Regions from separate parts of the Homo sapiens genome. Here region 1 is linked to region 2. The links come from fine-mapping of genetic effects on gene expression. Tissue or cell type: whole blood. Region 2 holds a variant in brackets; the other region holds the start of a gene. All regions are shown on one strand. Distances are from middle to middle.

Evidence for each region. PIP is the estimated chance that this variant, and not a neighbour inherited with it, causes the effect.
Region 1: PSMD4 starts here. The variant in region 2 is fine-mapped to the expression of PSMD4 in whole blood (INTERVAL, PIP 0.97).

What each region holds. Positions count from the first base shown.
Region 1 is chr1:151,251,080-151,259,079 of GRCh38, forward strand. PSMD4 (proteasome 26S subunit ubiquitin receptor, non-ATPase 4) reads left to right here and starts at 3,655. Exons shown (of 10, transcript NM_002810.4): 1 at 3,655-3,729. The coding sequence starts at 3,704. RefSeq lists an enhancer at 3,547-3,736 and a silencer at 3,777-3,916.
Region 2 is chr1:151,337,932-151,346,174 of GRCh38, forward strand. It overlaps RFX5 (regulatory factor X5), which reads right to left. Exons shown (of 11, transcript NM_001025603.2): 4 at 7,997-8,030; 5 at 7,175-7,257; 6 at 6,797-6,916; 7 at 6,486-6,605; 8 at 6,266-6,347; 9 at 5,750-5,951; 10 at 5,411-5,511; 11 at 2,709-5,247. The coding sequence ends at 4,255. Among named protein-coding and RNA genes, the nearest start is that of RFX5-AS1, 5.0 kb to the right of the region's middle. RefSeq lists enhancers at 4,988-5,488, 8,154-8,243. The variant T/C (reference allele first, on the strand shown) is at 3,972.

The DNA of each region.
Region 1 (8,000 bases), 87 kb before region 2:
AAAACCCATCTTTACTAAAAATACAAAAAATTAGCTGGGCGTGGTGGGTGCACGCCTGTAATCCCAGCTACTTGGGATGCTGAGGCAAGACAATCGCTTGAACCTGAGAGGCAGAGGTTGCGGTGAGCCAAGATCGAGCCCTTGCACTCCAGCCTGGGCAGCAAGAGTGAAACTCCTTCTCAAAAAAAAAAAAAAAAAAAAAAAATTAACCGGGCATGGTGGCGGGCGCCTGTAATCCCAGCTACTCGGGAGGCTGAGACAGGAGAATCGCTTGAACCCAGGAGGCAGAGGTTGCAGTGAGCTGAGATTGCACCATTCATTGCACTCCACCCTGGCAACAGAGTGACACTCCATCTCAAAAAAAAAAAAAAAAAAAAAAAGAAGAAAGAAAAAGCAAGTACTTGGATTGGAAGAGGAATGGGGGATTCTCAAAGTTTCTTTTCATTTTTCTTTTCTTTTTCTTTCTTTCTTTCTTTTTTTTTTTTTTTTTTTTGAGACAGATTTCACCATGTTGGCCAGGCTGGTCTCAAACTCCTAGCCTCAAGTGATCCGCTCACCTCGGCCTCCCAAAGTGCTGGGATTACAGGCGTGAGCCACTGCATTCGGCCCAGATTCTCAAAGTTTTGAATTTGATTTTCCCACAGCCCCAGCCAGTCCTCCTTTTGTCTGGATAAGGAGAAAACTTTTTTCCCTAATAGGAATTGGAGGTTAACATGTTTTAGGCATAAATGTTCTGCATCCCTGACCTTGTCACTCAGAGTGTACTCAAAACTACTGAATGGGTGGTGTAGATAATCCTCTTATGATCAGAGGGTCCCTCTAGCGGTGAGCAGCGACTAGTGCTTATTCTCTAGCTATATGCTCTAATTTATATTCAGATACAAGTAGGGTCTATTAGTGTAAAACTTCTAACTAAAAGAGAAATTAAAATCATAGGATAATAAAGTTGGAAATCGTCATCTGGTCTGATATTTTACCCTTAAGCATGTCAATCTCAGCTATTCTGAGATGTATTCAGAGATGAAGTCTCATTCTTTATTAGTTTTGTTTTTCTTTTTTTGAGACGGAGTTTCACTCTTGTCGCGCAGGTTGGAGTACAATAGCACGATCTCGGCTCACTGCAACCTTTTCCTCCCGGATTCAAGTGATTCTCCTGCCTCAGCCTCCAGAGTAGCTGGGACTATAGGCACCCACCACAATGCCCGGCTAATTTTTGTATCTTTAGTAGGATGGGATTTCACCATGTTGGCCAAGATGTTCTCGATCTCCTGAACTTATGATCCGTCCGCCTCGGCCTCCCAAAGTGCTGAGATTTCCCAGCCTTGGTTTTCTTTTTTAGTCTTGCTCTGTTACCCAGAGCAATCTCAGCTCACTCTAGCCTTGACTTTCTGGGCTCAGGCGACTTTCCTACCTCAGTCTCTCAAGTAGCTGGGACTACAGGCTGGCACCATCACAATCAGCTAATTTTTGTATTTTTTTGTAGCGACGGGGGTATCCAGGCTGGTCTCGGACTCCCAACCTCAAGTGATCTGCCCACCTCGGCCTCTCAGTGCTGGGATTACAGGCGTGAGCCACCGTGCCCAGCTGGCCTTCTTTTTTTCATTATGGGAATTTCCAAACCAAAAGTAGAGTAGTATGGTGAACCACTATGTACACATAACCCAGCCTCAATAATTATCAACATAAATAAGACCAGCGTGGCCGGGTGCAGTGGCTCAAGCCTGTAATCCCAGTTTTCGGAGGCTGAGATGGGAGGCCAGGAGTTAGAGGTTGCAGTGAGCTATGTATGATTGCACCACTGCTGCACTCCAGCCCAGTGAGACCTTGTCTCTTTTGTTTTACTTTGAGACCCTGTCTCAAAAAACAAAACTATTTGTTTCTTCCAGAGGATTAAGTTAAATCCCAAACTTCATATACTTTTTTTATCTATGAATACAACATATAACCCTTAATAAAGCCTACTTTTATAAGGGTGATAACTTTAACACTATTATCATGCCTAAAAAAATTGCTTAATATCAAATATCCAGCTGATGTGATGGCTCACGCCTGTAATCCCAACACTTTGAGACTTTTTTTTTTTCAGAGATGGGGTCTGGCTATGTTGCCTACGCTGGTCTCGAACTCATGCGCTCAAGCCATCCTCCCACATCAAAAAATTAAAAACAAATTAGCTGGGCTTGGTGGCATGCACCTATAGCCCCAGCTACTCAGGAGGCTGAGGCAGGAGGATGGCTTGAACCCGGGAGGTGGAGATTGCAGTGAGCCGAGATCAGGCCACTGCACTCCAATCTGGGCAACAGAGCGACACCCTGTCTCAAACAATAAAACTTTGTAGAGACGGAGTCTGGCTGTGTTGTCCAGGCTGGTCTCAGACTCCTAGCCTGAGTTGATCCTCCTGCCTGGGCCTCCCAAAACGCTGGGATTATAAAACCTAAGCCATTGCATCAGGCCTTGAATGTAATTTTTGATTAACCAAAACGGTTTAGTGGTTTGTTCTTTGGCAGATTAGTTAATATAATTGAGTTGTCAAATCTTTTCCGGGCTCTGTACTGGGCTTAGGGAATTGTAAAGATTAAGACACGTTGCCGGCCAGGTGTGGTGGCTCACGCCTGTAATCCCAGCACTTTGGGAAGCTGAGGTGGGTGGATCATCTGAGGTCAGGAAATCGAGACCAGCCTGGCCAACATGGTGAAACCTCGTCTCTACTAAAAATACAAAATTAGCCGGGCATGGTGGAATGCCCCTGTAGTCCCAGCTACCTGGGAGGCTGAGGCAGGAGAATCCCTGGAACCCAGGAGGTGGAGGTTGCAGTGAGCCGAGATCGAGCCACTGCACTCTAGCCTGGGTGAAAGAGCGAGACTCCTCCGTCTCAAAAAAAAAAAAAAAAAAAAAAAAAAAAAAAAAAAAAAAGGCACGTTGCCCACCCTTAGTTAAACGAGGGAGGAGATAAATATACAAATAAATTCAATTGAAGGGTATAAGGGCTTGTTGAATTAAAATTCTACAGGGAACTGAGGGCTGTAGAAAGTCATTAGCGATCCCGACACTTTTTTTTTTCTTTTTTTGAGACGGAGTCTCACTCTGTCCCCCAGGCTGGAGTGCAGTGGCGCGATCTCGGCTCACTGCAATCTCTGCCTCCCGGGTTCAAGTAATTCTCCTGCCTCAGCCTCCCGAGTAGCGGGGATTACAGGCGTGCGCCACCATGCCCGGCTAATTTTTTGTATTTTTAGTAGAGACAGGGTTTCACCATGCTGGCCAGGCTGGTCTCGAACTCCTGACCTCGTGATCCGCCCGCCTTGGCCTCCCAAAGTGCTGGGCTAACAGGCGTGAGCCACCGCGCTCGGCCGATCCCGACACTTTTTTAAAATGCCGAAGCCGGAATCGACACAGCACTTTCAAAGGTTCCTCCATAGCTCCCCTGAGATCCGGCCAGCGGGAAACCCCAACTGAGAACTGCAATGGCAGGGAAAGTGGAGGCTAGATCCTGTTTTTTGTGTTACCGCGATTCCCTTCAACTACCCTCAAGACGCCTACAAATTTGTTTGGCGGCACCTACAACTCCCAGAACGCAACGTGGGGGACGGAGGCGGAAGCAGCTGGCCAAGCCGAGGTCTGTGATTGGTGAAGAGCGACGGGCCAATTGGAGGAGTTGTTGTTAGGCCGTCCCGGAGACCCGGTCGGGAGGGAGGAAGGTGGCAAGATGGTGTTGGAAAGCACTATGGTGTGGTGAGGAGCTACTTCGGGGCAGGAGGGGCAGAGCTGGGTTCCGGGCGCGTGTAGCGCCAAGGCAGGGAGGGCCTGGGGTGGGGGCCAGGGGCTCATGGGCGAGAGGCGGCCCTGGCCCCGGAGGTAAGGAGCCCGCTGGACTCCCTGAGTCATCCCGGGGCCCTGGAGTGGCGGATAGTCCCGGGTTACCACTGTTACCCCCAGGGGGACGGTCATTGACTGGTCATTCCTGCTTCCTTTCTCTGTTCTAGCGCCGTCTTCTCTAGAGCAGCCCGGGTCTGTCTTTAGCTACAGTTCTGCTTTTCGGACTCATCGTAATAGTTTTCTGCCCTCCTTTCTTTGCAAAATAACGTCTATTAGGAAAATAGATTATTAATCCCTTCCTCTCCCCATTCCCTCGTCTCTAACTTCATTACCTTTCCCTGTATCATCTTCAAAGGTACCATTTACAGATTGCTTTTTATGTATCAGTCATTTTGTTTATCTCACTTATACCTCACAACCACACCTTAAGGTAAATTATCTCTCCATTTTACGGTTCAGGATACCGAGTCTCAGCGATTTTAAGTGATTTGTCCAAAATCATACAGCTAGTTAAGTGGTGGAGTCAAGATTTAAACCCACGGCTGTCTGACACAAAGGCTTTATCCGGTGAGGTAGCTCTCTTTGTCAGTTTCAGGCTTGGGCTGAGTACCTATTACGAGTCACATTAGAAGAGGAGGACATAAATTTTTGCAGGGTTTCAAGAGTTCCTTCTAAGTGTAATCACTGAATGTAATACAGAATAGTTGACGAACACAAATCACCGATTGGGTGAAACAGGCACCTATGAGATTTCTTCTTTTTATTTTCTCGGGGGAGCATAGCATTGCCAGATAACATACAGGATGCCCAGTGAAATTTGAGTTTCAGATAAACGATGAATAATTTTTTTTTGAGACGGTCTCGCTCTGTCTCCCGGACTGGAGTGCAGTGGCCCAGTCTGGCTCACTGCAGCCTCCGCCTCCCTGGTTCAAGTGATTCCCAGTGATTGAACTAATTTACACTTGCACCAACGATAGAACAGTGTTCTCTTTTCTCGCAACCTTGCCAGCATCTGTTATTTTTTTAGTTTTTAGTAATAGCCATTCTGACTGGTGTTAGGTGGTATCTCGTTGTGGTTTTGATTTATTTGCATTTCTCTAATGATCAGTGATATTGAGGTTTTTTTAATAGGCTTGTTGGCTGTATGTATATCGTCTTTTGAAAAGTGTCTGGCTGGGGCGTGGCTCAGGCCTGTAATCCCAGCACTTTGGAAGGCTGAAGTGGGTGTATCACCTGAGGTCAGGAGTTACTGACCAGCCTGGCCAACATGGTGAAACCCCATCTCTACTAAAAATACAAAAATTAGCCAGGCGTGGTGGTGGACGCCTGTAGTCCCAGCTACTCCAGAGGCTGAGGTGGGAGAATCGTTTGAACCCCGGAGGTGGAGGTTGCAGTGAGCCGAGATGGCGCCACTGCACTCTAGCCTGGGCGACAGAGTGAGACTCCCTCTCAAAAAAAAAAAAATAATAATAAAATAAATAAATAAATAAATAAATAAATAAAAATAAAGTGTCTGATGTCTGTTCATGTCCTTTGCCCACTTTTTTTTTTTTTTTTCTCTTTGAGAAGGAGTTTTGCTCTTGTTGCCCAGGTTGGAGTACAGTGGCGCCATCTCAGCTCACTGCAACCTCCGCCTCCCTGGTTCAAGTGATTCTCCTGCCTCAGCCTCCTGAGTAACTGGGATTACAGGTGCCCGCCACCACGCCCAGCTTTTTTGTATTTTTGGTAGAGACGGGGTTTCATCATGTTGGCCAGGCTAGTCTCAAACTGCTGAGCTCAGGTGATCCACCCGCCTCAGCCTCCCAAAGTGCAGGGATTACAGGCGTTGAGCCACTGTGCCCGGCTCCTTTGCCCACTTTTTTTTTTTTTCGCTCTTATTGCCCAGGCTGGAGTGCAATGACACAATCTCAGCTCCCCGCAACCTTCGGCTCACCGCAACCTCCGCCTCCCGTGTTCAAGCGATTCTCCTGCCTCAGCCTCCTTAGTAGCTGGGATTACAGGCATGCGCCACCACGCCCAGCTAATTTTGTGTTTTTAGTAGAGACCAGGTTTCTCCATGTTGGTCAGGCTGGTCTCGAACTCCCACCCTCAGGTGATCCGCCCGCCTCAGCCTCCCAAAGTGCTGGCATTATAGGCGTGAGCCACTGTGCCCGGCCGGTCTTCCAGGATTTTTATAGTTTTGGGTTTTACCTTGTCTTTAATCCATCTTCAGTTAATTTTTGTGTATGGTATAAGAAAGGAGTCCAGCTTCAATCTTCTGCATATGGCTAGCCTAGCCAGTATCCCCAGTTATTGAATAGGGACTCTTTTTCCTCACTGCTTGTTTTGTCAGCTTTGTCAAAGAATAGATGGTCATAGGTGTGCGGCTTTATTTCTAGACTCTCTATTCTGTCCCATTGGTCTCTGTGCCTGTTTTTGTACCAGTGCCATGCGGTTTTGGTTATTGTAGCCCTAAGTAATAGTTTGAAGTTGGGTAAAGTTGCCTCCAGCTTTGTTCTTTTAGCTTAGGATTGCCTTGGCTTTTCTGGCTCTTTGTTGGTTCCATATGAATTTTCAAATAGTTTTTTCTAGTTCTTTGAAGAATGTTTTTGGTAGTTTGATAGGAGTAGCATTGAATCTGTAAATTGCTGTGGGAAGAATGGCCAATTTTAATTAATTAATTAATTAATTTATGAGACAGAGTCTTGCTCTGTCTCCCAGGCTGGAGTGCAGTGGTGTGATCTCGGCTCATTGCAACCTCCGCCTCTCAGGTTCAAGTGATTATTGTGCCTCAGCCTTCTGAGTAGCTGGGATTCCAGGCACCCGCCACCATACCTGGCTTTCTTTTTTTTTTTTTTTTTTTTTTGTATTTTTAGTAAAGATGGGGTTTGGCCATGTGGCCAGGCTGGTCTTGAACTCCTGGCCTCAAGTGATCTGCCCACCTCAGCCTCCCAAAGTGCTGGAATTACAGGTGTGAGCCACCATGCTCGGCAGTATGGCCATTTTAATGATATTGATTCTTCCTATTCATGAGCATGAGATGTTTTTCCACTTGTTTATATCTTCTTTGATTTATTTGAGCGGTATTTTGTAATTCTCATTGTAGAGCTCTTTCATCTCCCTGGTTAGTTGTATTCCTAGGTTTGTTTGTCTATTTGTTTGTTTTTTTGAGATGGAGTCTCGCTTTTGTTGCCCAGGCTGGAGTGCAGTGGCGCCATCTCGGCTCACTGCAACCTCCACCTCCCGGGTTCAAATGATTCTCCTGTCTCAGCCTCCCGAGTAGCTGGGATTACAGGTGCGTGCCACCATGCCCGGGTAATTTTTTTCTGTATTTTTAGTAGAGATGAGGTTTCATCATATTGGTCAGGCTGGTCTCGAACACTTGACCTCAGGTGATCCACCAGCCTCAGCCTCCCAAAGTGCTGAGATTACAGGCATGAGCCACAACACCCAGCCAAGGTATTTTATTCTTTTTGTGGCAGTATGCACATAGTTCTTGGCCCCATGTAGTGCATCATGGGGAACCTGCTGTTGATGTGACTGCCTTGCACATGTGCCATTGTATTACCCTTTTCGAGTGTTTTTTTTTTTTTTTTTTTTTTTGGGGGAGACAGGGTCTCATTCTGTCACCCAGGCTGGAGTGCAGTAGTGTGATCTTGGCTCACTGCAGCCTCGACCTCCGGGGCTCAAGTGATCCTCCTGCCTCAGCCTCCTGAATAGCTGGGACTACAGGCACTTACCACCATGCCCAGCTATTTTTTGTATTTTTTGTAGAGATGGGGTTTTGTCATATTGATTAGGCTGGTCTCGAACTCTTGGGCTCAAGAGAGCCTCCCTCCTTGGACTCCCTAAGTGCTGGGATTACAGGCATGAACCATCACACCCAGCCTGTATTCTCTTTTAAAATAAAGGTTTTGGCGGTAATCCCAGCTACTTAGGAGGCTGAGGCAGGAGAAGGGGTTAAGCCCAGGAGTTTGAGGTTACAGTGAGCTATGATTTCACCACTGGCCTCCAGCCTGGGTGACAGAGCAAGATCCTGTCTCAAAAAAATATGTGAAATGGCCAGGTGCGGTGGCTTACACCTGTAATCCCAGCACTTTGAGAGGTTGAGGTGGGCGGATCATCAGAGGTCAGGAGCTCAAGACCAACCTGGCCAACATAGTGAAACCCCGTCTCTACTAAAAATACAAAAATTAGCTGGCATGGTG
Region 2 (8,243 bases):
GGCAGAGGTTGCAGTGGGCTGAGACTGCACCACTGCGCTCCAACATGGGTGACAGAGCAAGACGCCATCTCAAAACAAAAAACAAAAAAACCCAAAATATAAAGTATACAAGTAAACAAGCTACCATGGACAGGACTCAGCAGAAAACAACAAAATGGATTTAGACATCCAAGATGTTACAGAATATAAAATAACAATCCCAACACATTTCAAAGAATTGGTGTCATAGACACTACATTCTCTGAACACAAATGATTAAGCTAAAAATCAGTATCAAAAAGATACAATTTGGGCCAGGTGCGGTGGCTCATGCCTGTAATCCCAGCACTTTGGGAGGCTGAGGCGGGCGGATCACAAGGTCAGGAGATCGAGACTACCCTGGCTAACACGGTGAAACCCTGTCTCTACTAAAAAACACAAAAAATTAGCTGGGTGTGGTGGCGGGCACCTGTAGTCCCAGCTGCTCCGGAGGCTGAGGCAGGAGAATGGCCTGAACCCGGGAGGTAGGCTTGCAGTGAGCCAAGATCACGCCACTGCACTTCAGCCCAGGCGACAGAGTGAGACTCTGTCTCAAAAAAAAAATACAATTTTAAATCTCCAGATATTTGGAAGTTTATAAAATGTTTCTAAATAGTTCATGAGTCAAAAAGTCATAAAGGTAATTTAAATATTTTTAGAACTAAGTAATAAAAATACAGCACAGAAAAACTTGTGGGATGTAGAGAAACAGGTTATTAAAAACTTAAAATAGTGAAGAAGATAGCCTGAAAATTAATTGGCTAAGTGTCAAAATGAATATGTTGTAAAGGAACATAAAATTAAACCTAAAGAAAGCATAAAAAAGATAGCTATAGATAAGATCCATAATTAATGAAATGGAAAACAAATACATAAGGGAGAGGATCAACAAAGCTCAAAGTAGCATCTGAAGATATATAGGTAAAATAAATTGCTGGTGCAACTGATCAAGACCAAAAAAGGAGGCACAAGTAAACAACAGAAATGAAAAGGAAGATATGCCTATCCACAGAGCAGAGATAAAAAAGAAACAAGGCCAGGAGCAGTGGCTCACGCCTGTAATCCAAGCACTTTGAGAGGCAAAGGCAGGCTGATCACTTGAGATCAGGAGTTTGAGACCAGCCTGACCAACATGGTGAAACCACCTCTCTACTGAAAATACAAGAATTAGCTGGCCGTGGTAGCACACACCTGTAATCCCAGCTACTCCGGAGGCTGAGGCAGGAGAATCGCTTGAACCCGGAAGGCAGAGGTTACAGTGAGCCAAGACTGCGCCACTGCCCTCCAGCCTGGGCGACAGAGCGGGACTCTGTCTCAAAAAAAAAAAAAAAAAAAAAAGAAGAGCCGGGCACGGTGGCTCACGCCTGTAATCCCAGCACTTTGGAAGGCTGAGGCGGGCGGATCACAAGGTCAGGAGTTCGAGACCATCCTGGCTGACACGGTGAAACCCCATCTCTACTAAAAATACAAAAAAAAATTAGCCAGGTGTACGTGGTGCATGCCTGTAGTCCCAGCTACTCGGGAGGCTGAGGCAGGAGAATGGCGTAAAACCCAGGAGGCAGAGCTTGCAGTGAGCCGAGATCACGCCACTGCACTCCAGCCTGGGAGACAGAGCGAGACTCTGTCTCAAAGAAAAAAAAAAAAAAAGAAACTAGAAGAAATATATGCATTTTGTGTTAAAAAAAATACATGAAATGCACAAAACCCTAGAATAATACTTTACCTAAGCTGACTCAAGAAGAATAGAAAGCCCAGTCTATAATTATTAAAGAAATGGAATCAATAGTTAAAATTATTCCCACAAAGAAACATCAATCTCAGATAGCTTTACAGGTGAGTTTTACCAAACTTTCAAGGAACAGTTTGTTTCAATCTGATATAAACTCTTCCAGAGAATAAGACAAGAGGGAACAGTTCCCAACTTAGAGGTTATATAAACCAAAGGACCATGGTAGAAGCCTCTTTAGAAATCTTACTGAAAACAAAGGCACTAACATGTACAAGAATGTTCATAGCAGCAGTTTGAAATAGCAAAATACTGAAAATATCCAAAGATCCATTGATAGGTGAATGGATAAATAACTTGTGGTTTATGAACTTGATAAAATATTATGCAGATGAAAATGAATGAATCATAGCTATCTACAACAGCATGGATGAATCTTAGAAACAATGGTAAGTGAGAAAAAGCAAACTGCAGGGGACTATTAGAGTATAACATAGCTGGGCACAGGTGGCTCATGCCTGTAATCCCAGCGCTTTGGGAGCCCAAGGTGGGCAGATGGCTTGAGCCCAGGAGTTCAAGACCAGCCTGGGCAACATGGTGAAACCCCATCTCTACTAAAAATACAAAACTTCAGGCATGGTGGCAGGCACCTGTAGTCCCAGCTACTAGGGAGGGTGAGGTGGGAGGATTGCTTGAGCCCAGGAAGTGGAGGTTGCAGTGAGCTGAGATCACACCACTGCACTACAGCCTTCACAATAGAGTGAGACTGTGTCTCAAAAAAAAAAAAAAAAAGTATAACATTTTCTGTAAAGCTAAAAAACAAGCAAAATTAAACACATTTTTAAAATTATATATACATATATGGTTAAAAAATATCTATAGCAGATAATAGACACGAAAATTAAGGACAGTGGTTACCGCTAAGAAGAGGCGGGGGACAGGCTAGGGAGGAACACAAACACAATGGTATTTAAAATGTTTTAATGTATATGTGTTATGGGTCATAGGTACTCATTAGTATGCTTCATAATTTATTCACGTTAGATATACTCTTTATAGATATCAAATATTACATATTATAATTTCTTAAAATCTGCTGTGGTGGAAATAAATGAACACATGAAGTCTCCCTGAAAGAAAATCAGTGTTTCTTGGGAAGAACCAAGATTCCCTGACAGAAGCTACCCTATGTAGAGGACAAAGTAGGTCTTCAATAAATATTAGTTGGTTTACTGCTTTTCCCAAGGATACATCTGGAGGGTCTGCATTCCTTTCTCATTGGTGCCGCCTGACCACAGAACTAGCTTTTTCCGTGACATCTAACCTAAACCCCGCAGTCCTAAGTCCTGACACGTATGACAAGATGCTGCCACCTGGTGGATACAGAATAGATTTAATGAAATGGCTAGGAAGTCTTTCACTCTAGTTGGTGGAACTGGCAATAGGGTGAGAGGGAAGCAGGAATGAGAAGACAAAAATTAAGAAACAGGAAAAGGAAGGAGCTCCATCTCTAATATGGAGGTAGAAAAAAAGGGACTATCATCTAAATGAGACTGAAGAGTCCCTAGAGGAGAATGGCTTCCCTCTCCTTCCTTCTGAGACTAGAAACGAGGAAAGAGGCTACAGCTTGTATTGAGGGAAATGCAAGACTGAGGAGAAAAGAAAGCAGGTCTAGCTGATCTCAACTTAGCAAGCTAAAATAAGAGTAGCCTGGTGTTAGCGGCCACCCAAGCAACTCCCTGCTCCTAGTTTCCACTTGGGGAATCCATGTGATTTTGGGGAGGCTGACCCCCACCCTTTTCCCCAAAGGTGTTGTCCATGATATAGAATAAGCAAATTAGCATGTATCATCCTCCTGGCCACAGTGATTGGTCAGGGTGGACATGTGACCCAGGCCTAATCAGTGTGAATATTAGGGCTTTTGCTGAGATTTCTGGTACAAAGATGCCTTCTTTTTCTGATTGGACATAAATGGGGAAAAGTGTAATCTTAGGAATGCTGGCAGCCATTAAGTGGCCCAGACTTAAATGGTCCTACAGAAGATGCAACAGTGAGAAAAAAGTCAGTCCGGTATTTAGAGACATACTGAACTACTGGGTCAAGTCTTCACCTGGAGCCAGCACTACCTATGGACTTTCTAGTTACATGAACCAATAAATCCTTTTTATTTTAAGCCAGTTTGAATTAGGTTTTCTGTGATTTAAAACCAAAAGATCCCTAACCTATA[T/C]ATTCATCATACTTAGCCCATTCCTACCTTCCCACAGGATAGCACAGGGAATACAGGTAAGGTCACTACAGATTTATTGGTTACACTAAAGCCCAGGGTATCAAGCTGAAAAGGTCAGAGGCAGCAACCAGGTACTAAGTAGACTGGGTGACTCAGCTGTCTGTACAGAGGAGAATGGACTTCCTTAGGAAAAGAATAGCCAAATGAGAAGCAAGTGCAAAGAAGGGCCTCTACTAGGCAAAGTTAACGTAGGGATATAAACACTCTTCCCCACAGACCTGTATCATGGGGGTGTTGCTTTTGGGTCTTTATGCTCCTGGGATAAGGAACTTTGAAGCACATGCTCCTTTAAGTCTTTATTACCCTGTGGTGCAGTGTCTACCTCTCCCTTTGCCAAAGGAAAAGCCTCCTTTTGGCTTCTGCTGCCCTTGATGACACTCACTTTTGAGGGGACCAAGGGAATTTTATCTTCTGCTTCTTTGGTATGCTGGGAACCGGGGCCCCTTCCTCCTTTGGAAACAGTACCATCTCCCTGACCCTGGGCAAGTACTGCCCCCTTTTCAGCCTCTCCCATTGGCCCTGGCCTCTCTGCCCCTCCAGCTGAGTTGCCTTCCCCTCCTGAGCCCCATGTCTCCCATGGTAACCTTGAGGACTGGGCAGATTCCATGGCAGCTGCTGACTTGAGAGGGGTAGAATTCCTTTCCCCACTTCCACCTGACTTTTTTCGAGGGCGCCCCCGTTTCCTTTTGGCATCACTTGCTGTATCCTCTATATCCTGCTTTGCTGCTTTAGCTGGTGGAGCCTGCCCACTGGCCTCACTCACAGGTACTTCAGCTGTCCTCTTGACACCCTTGTCATGTGGTCCTTGGTCACCACCTATGCCTACCTCTCTGTTCTCTGTGCCCCGGGGCTGAGTGAGTCCCCCAGGTGGAGCTCGCCCAGGCCCAGGTCCAGGTCCAGGCAAAGCAGGAACAGTTGGTAAGATCATGTTAATGATGGGCACAGCTGCTGGGGGTGCCCCGGCCCTACTAGACAGAGGCAGTGTAGCCACTTTCAGGGCACCTGAAGAAAGCCTGGGGGCCAGAATAGGTGGAGAGACTGGGATTGGCGGAATTAGTGAGCGAGGGGCCCGGGGAAGGAGCAGAGGCAGCCGAGCCACTAGGGCATTAACCTGCAGGTTATTGGCTCCTGGGGCCGAGCTCTCAACTACACTCTTCTTCCGCTCTCCACGTGCGAGAGGACCGGCCCCAGTTCGGGCTTCCAGATCCTTAGGAGGCTAAAAAGTAAAGAGAGGAACACAGTAAGGTGTGAAGAATGAGTATTGGGGGAAACATAGACGCCAGAGGCACAGGAGGTGGAAAAGCAAGGGACCCAATTGGAGAAGGATATACTAAGCCCCCAGCCCAGGACAGCAAAGTCAGGGCCACTGACTTCCTTACCTGGGCCAGTCTCTCTGGCTTCTTGTGGGCTCCACCCTCTGGGTTCTCTAAACCATTCTTTGGTTTAGATGACCGTTCCCGAGGTGCATGTTCGTCCTCTTCTGCAGAGGTACCAAAAAGGTAATAGAGTGAAGGTGAGGAGGAAACTGAGGAATAGGGGAGTGAGGCAATTCTGATTGACTGACTGGTAGAGACAGGAAATGGGGTGCTAAAGCATGTCTTAGAAGGGTCTCCAGGAAGAGGGGGCAAATCCAAGGTGTCTCTATTCTAGTGTGTGGGAGGGCCACTGAAGCTGAAAGTGGCTCAGGGTTGCTGAGACATAAGAGAGGGTCAACACACCAGCGAGCCCCATGGCCTTAAGCACATGGGCATGTGCAGATCGGGCAGAGATGAGATGCTGCTGTAGCAGGAAGCGGGCGACCTCAACGATGGAACTGAAGGACCGTTTCAGGATCCGCTCTGCCCAGTCACAGGTCAGGGCACACGCTGCCTCCACCAGTTCATCTCGAGGTGCTGGGGTTACTTCTGGGCCCATTTCTGGCTGAAGTGGGGAAGGACATGCCCAATCACACTCCAAATTAAAGAACCCTTGCCTCCTCTCTTGTCAGAGATCAAAGACTATTGACCAAAGCTGAGACCAGACTGGGGATGGGAGTAGCCTCTACCTATCCCATTGCAGAAGCCCACAAGTTCTCTTCATCCTCTGCCTCAGCTACAGGGTTGGCAGAAGGGAACATCATACCTAGAAGCTATGTACATAATGACTGAGGCTGTTAGCCCTCAAAACATGCCCCAAAGACCTCTGACTTTTACCTGGGAGAGAAGAGTGGAATTGGAAGGTGATTTGGTACTTACACTCTCAGAACCCTTTAGGTCAAGTCCAGGCAGGGGTGGCATAGACACCAAGGTCTTCCTCCTTATGCCACTGTAGCAATATCTGATGCAAGTTAAAGAGCAGCCAACACATGGCGATCTCCAAGCCCCTCGAGCAAGTTAAGCTGTTCCACTCCTTGCTCTCCACATCCTAAGTCTTCCTCCCAGGTCCTCCACCCCCAACCTCTCTAGTCAAGGATACTTGGACTGGCCCCGGCCACCAAGCCTTCGAGCTTTGATGTCAGGGAAGATCTCTCTGATGATCTTGCCAAAGTTGGCTGTGCTGAGTGGGCGGCAACAGGCAAGACTCTCACAGTACTTCCTGAGTGAGAGGGGAGCAGAGTGGGAAGATACTCAGAGAAGGAGGCCATGGGTAGGCTCGAAGAGTCCCTAGGGATCAAGTGTGAGGAACCCTTTAAGAAGGCAGGCTTTATCAAGGCAGGAAGCTCTTCATGGGTGAGGGGGTCCTATGCCCACCAATCCACTCATCCCACCACCCACCCCTCCACCCACCGATAGGCATCATAAACACTTTGCTTTGGCAGACAGGTGTCAGTGTGCTCTTCCAGGTGGTTGCGGATCCACCTATAGGCATACATGTACTCCTCATTGCTCAGTGTACTTGGCTCTGAGCTACAGAAACAAAAGGAACAAGCATTACTAAGACCCTAACAGTTGTCCTGGTTCTTCCCAAACTACCACTTCAGTAGTGCTGGACCAAATTTAGTTCACCCAGAATCTAACTTTCCCTGGTAAACCAAGTCAGGGCGAGGACCTTTCCTCTTCATCAAGGACAGCATTTACGAGTATTCCTATTCACCTCACCCCTTCCCAGTGAACCTTTCTCTAAGAATCAGAACCTCTGCCATCTAAAACTACTATCAAACCTACCTTTTGTCTCCAGTGGTGGGTCCTGAGGGGAGCTGAAGGTAGAGATACAGCTTGTCATTGTCAGAAAATTTCTGTACATCTTGCTGAGGTAGGAGAGAACAGAGGCAGGAGAAATAATAAGGCCAAGAAGGACCCAATATAGGACCCTCTGATCCCCACACCAAAGTCTAGCTGACTTACAGGGTGTCAGACTGAAAAAGGACCTTAGAAATTATTTGACAAGGCCGGGCACGGTGGCTCACGCCTACAATCCCAGCACTTTGGAAGGCCAAGGCAGGCTGATCACAAGGTCAGGAGATCGAGACCATCCTGGCTAACATGGTGAAACCCCGTTTCTACTAAAAATACAAAAAAAAATTAGCTGGGTGTGGTGACGGGCGCCTGTAGTCCCAGCTACTTGGGAGGCTGAGGCAGGAGAATGGCGTGAACCTGGGAGGCGGAGCTTGCAGTGAGCCGAGATTGCGCCACTGCACTCCAGCCTAGGCGACAGAGTGAGACTCCATCTCAAAAAAAAAAAAAAAAAAGAAAGAAATTATTTGATGCTAGGTGCTCTGAGGAGCCCTATAGGCTACCATGGAGAGGAGGGAAGTAGAGGGGATCAGCTCTGACTTCATCTCTGCTGGGCTTCTATGCAAGTGCTCACAGAGATCAAGTGAGAGGCACAAAGTCAAACTGGCAGCAAGTTTGCAAAGCCAACTATCTTCTGACAAGGCAGAGGACCCTACCTCTCCCACATCAATGTTTTGTTGATGCCCATCATCCTCACATCCTCCTCCCTCAGCATTTCCATCCCTCTCTTGCCCTCTTCCCCAACACACTTACCAGGATCCCCTCTACTTTGTTCTGCACGGCCTTGCTGTGGGGAAGAGGAGAAAGCTGGAGGTCACACACAAGATTTTCCCTGTCTCTTTATCTGACTGCTAGGGAGGGAAAAGGACTGAAATGCCCAGCAGGTGCTCAAGAATTGCTACCATGGCCAAAAATCTCCCTCTGCTCCCATGCCCTTGCTGAGAGGCAGTTCATCTACAGCCAAAGTGAAGTGCTGCAGGGATCTATACTCAGGTCTTGG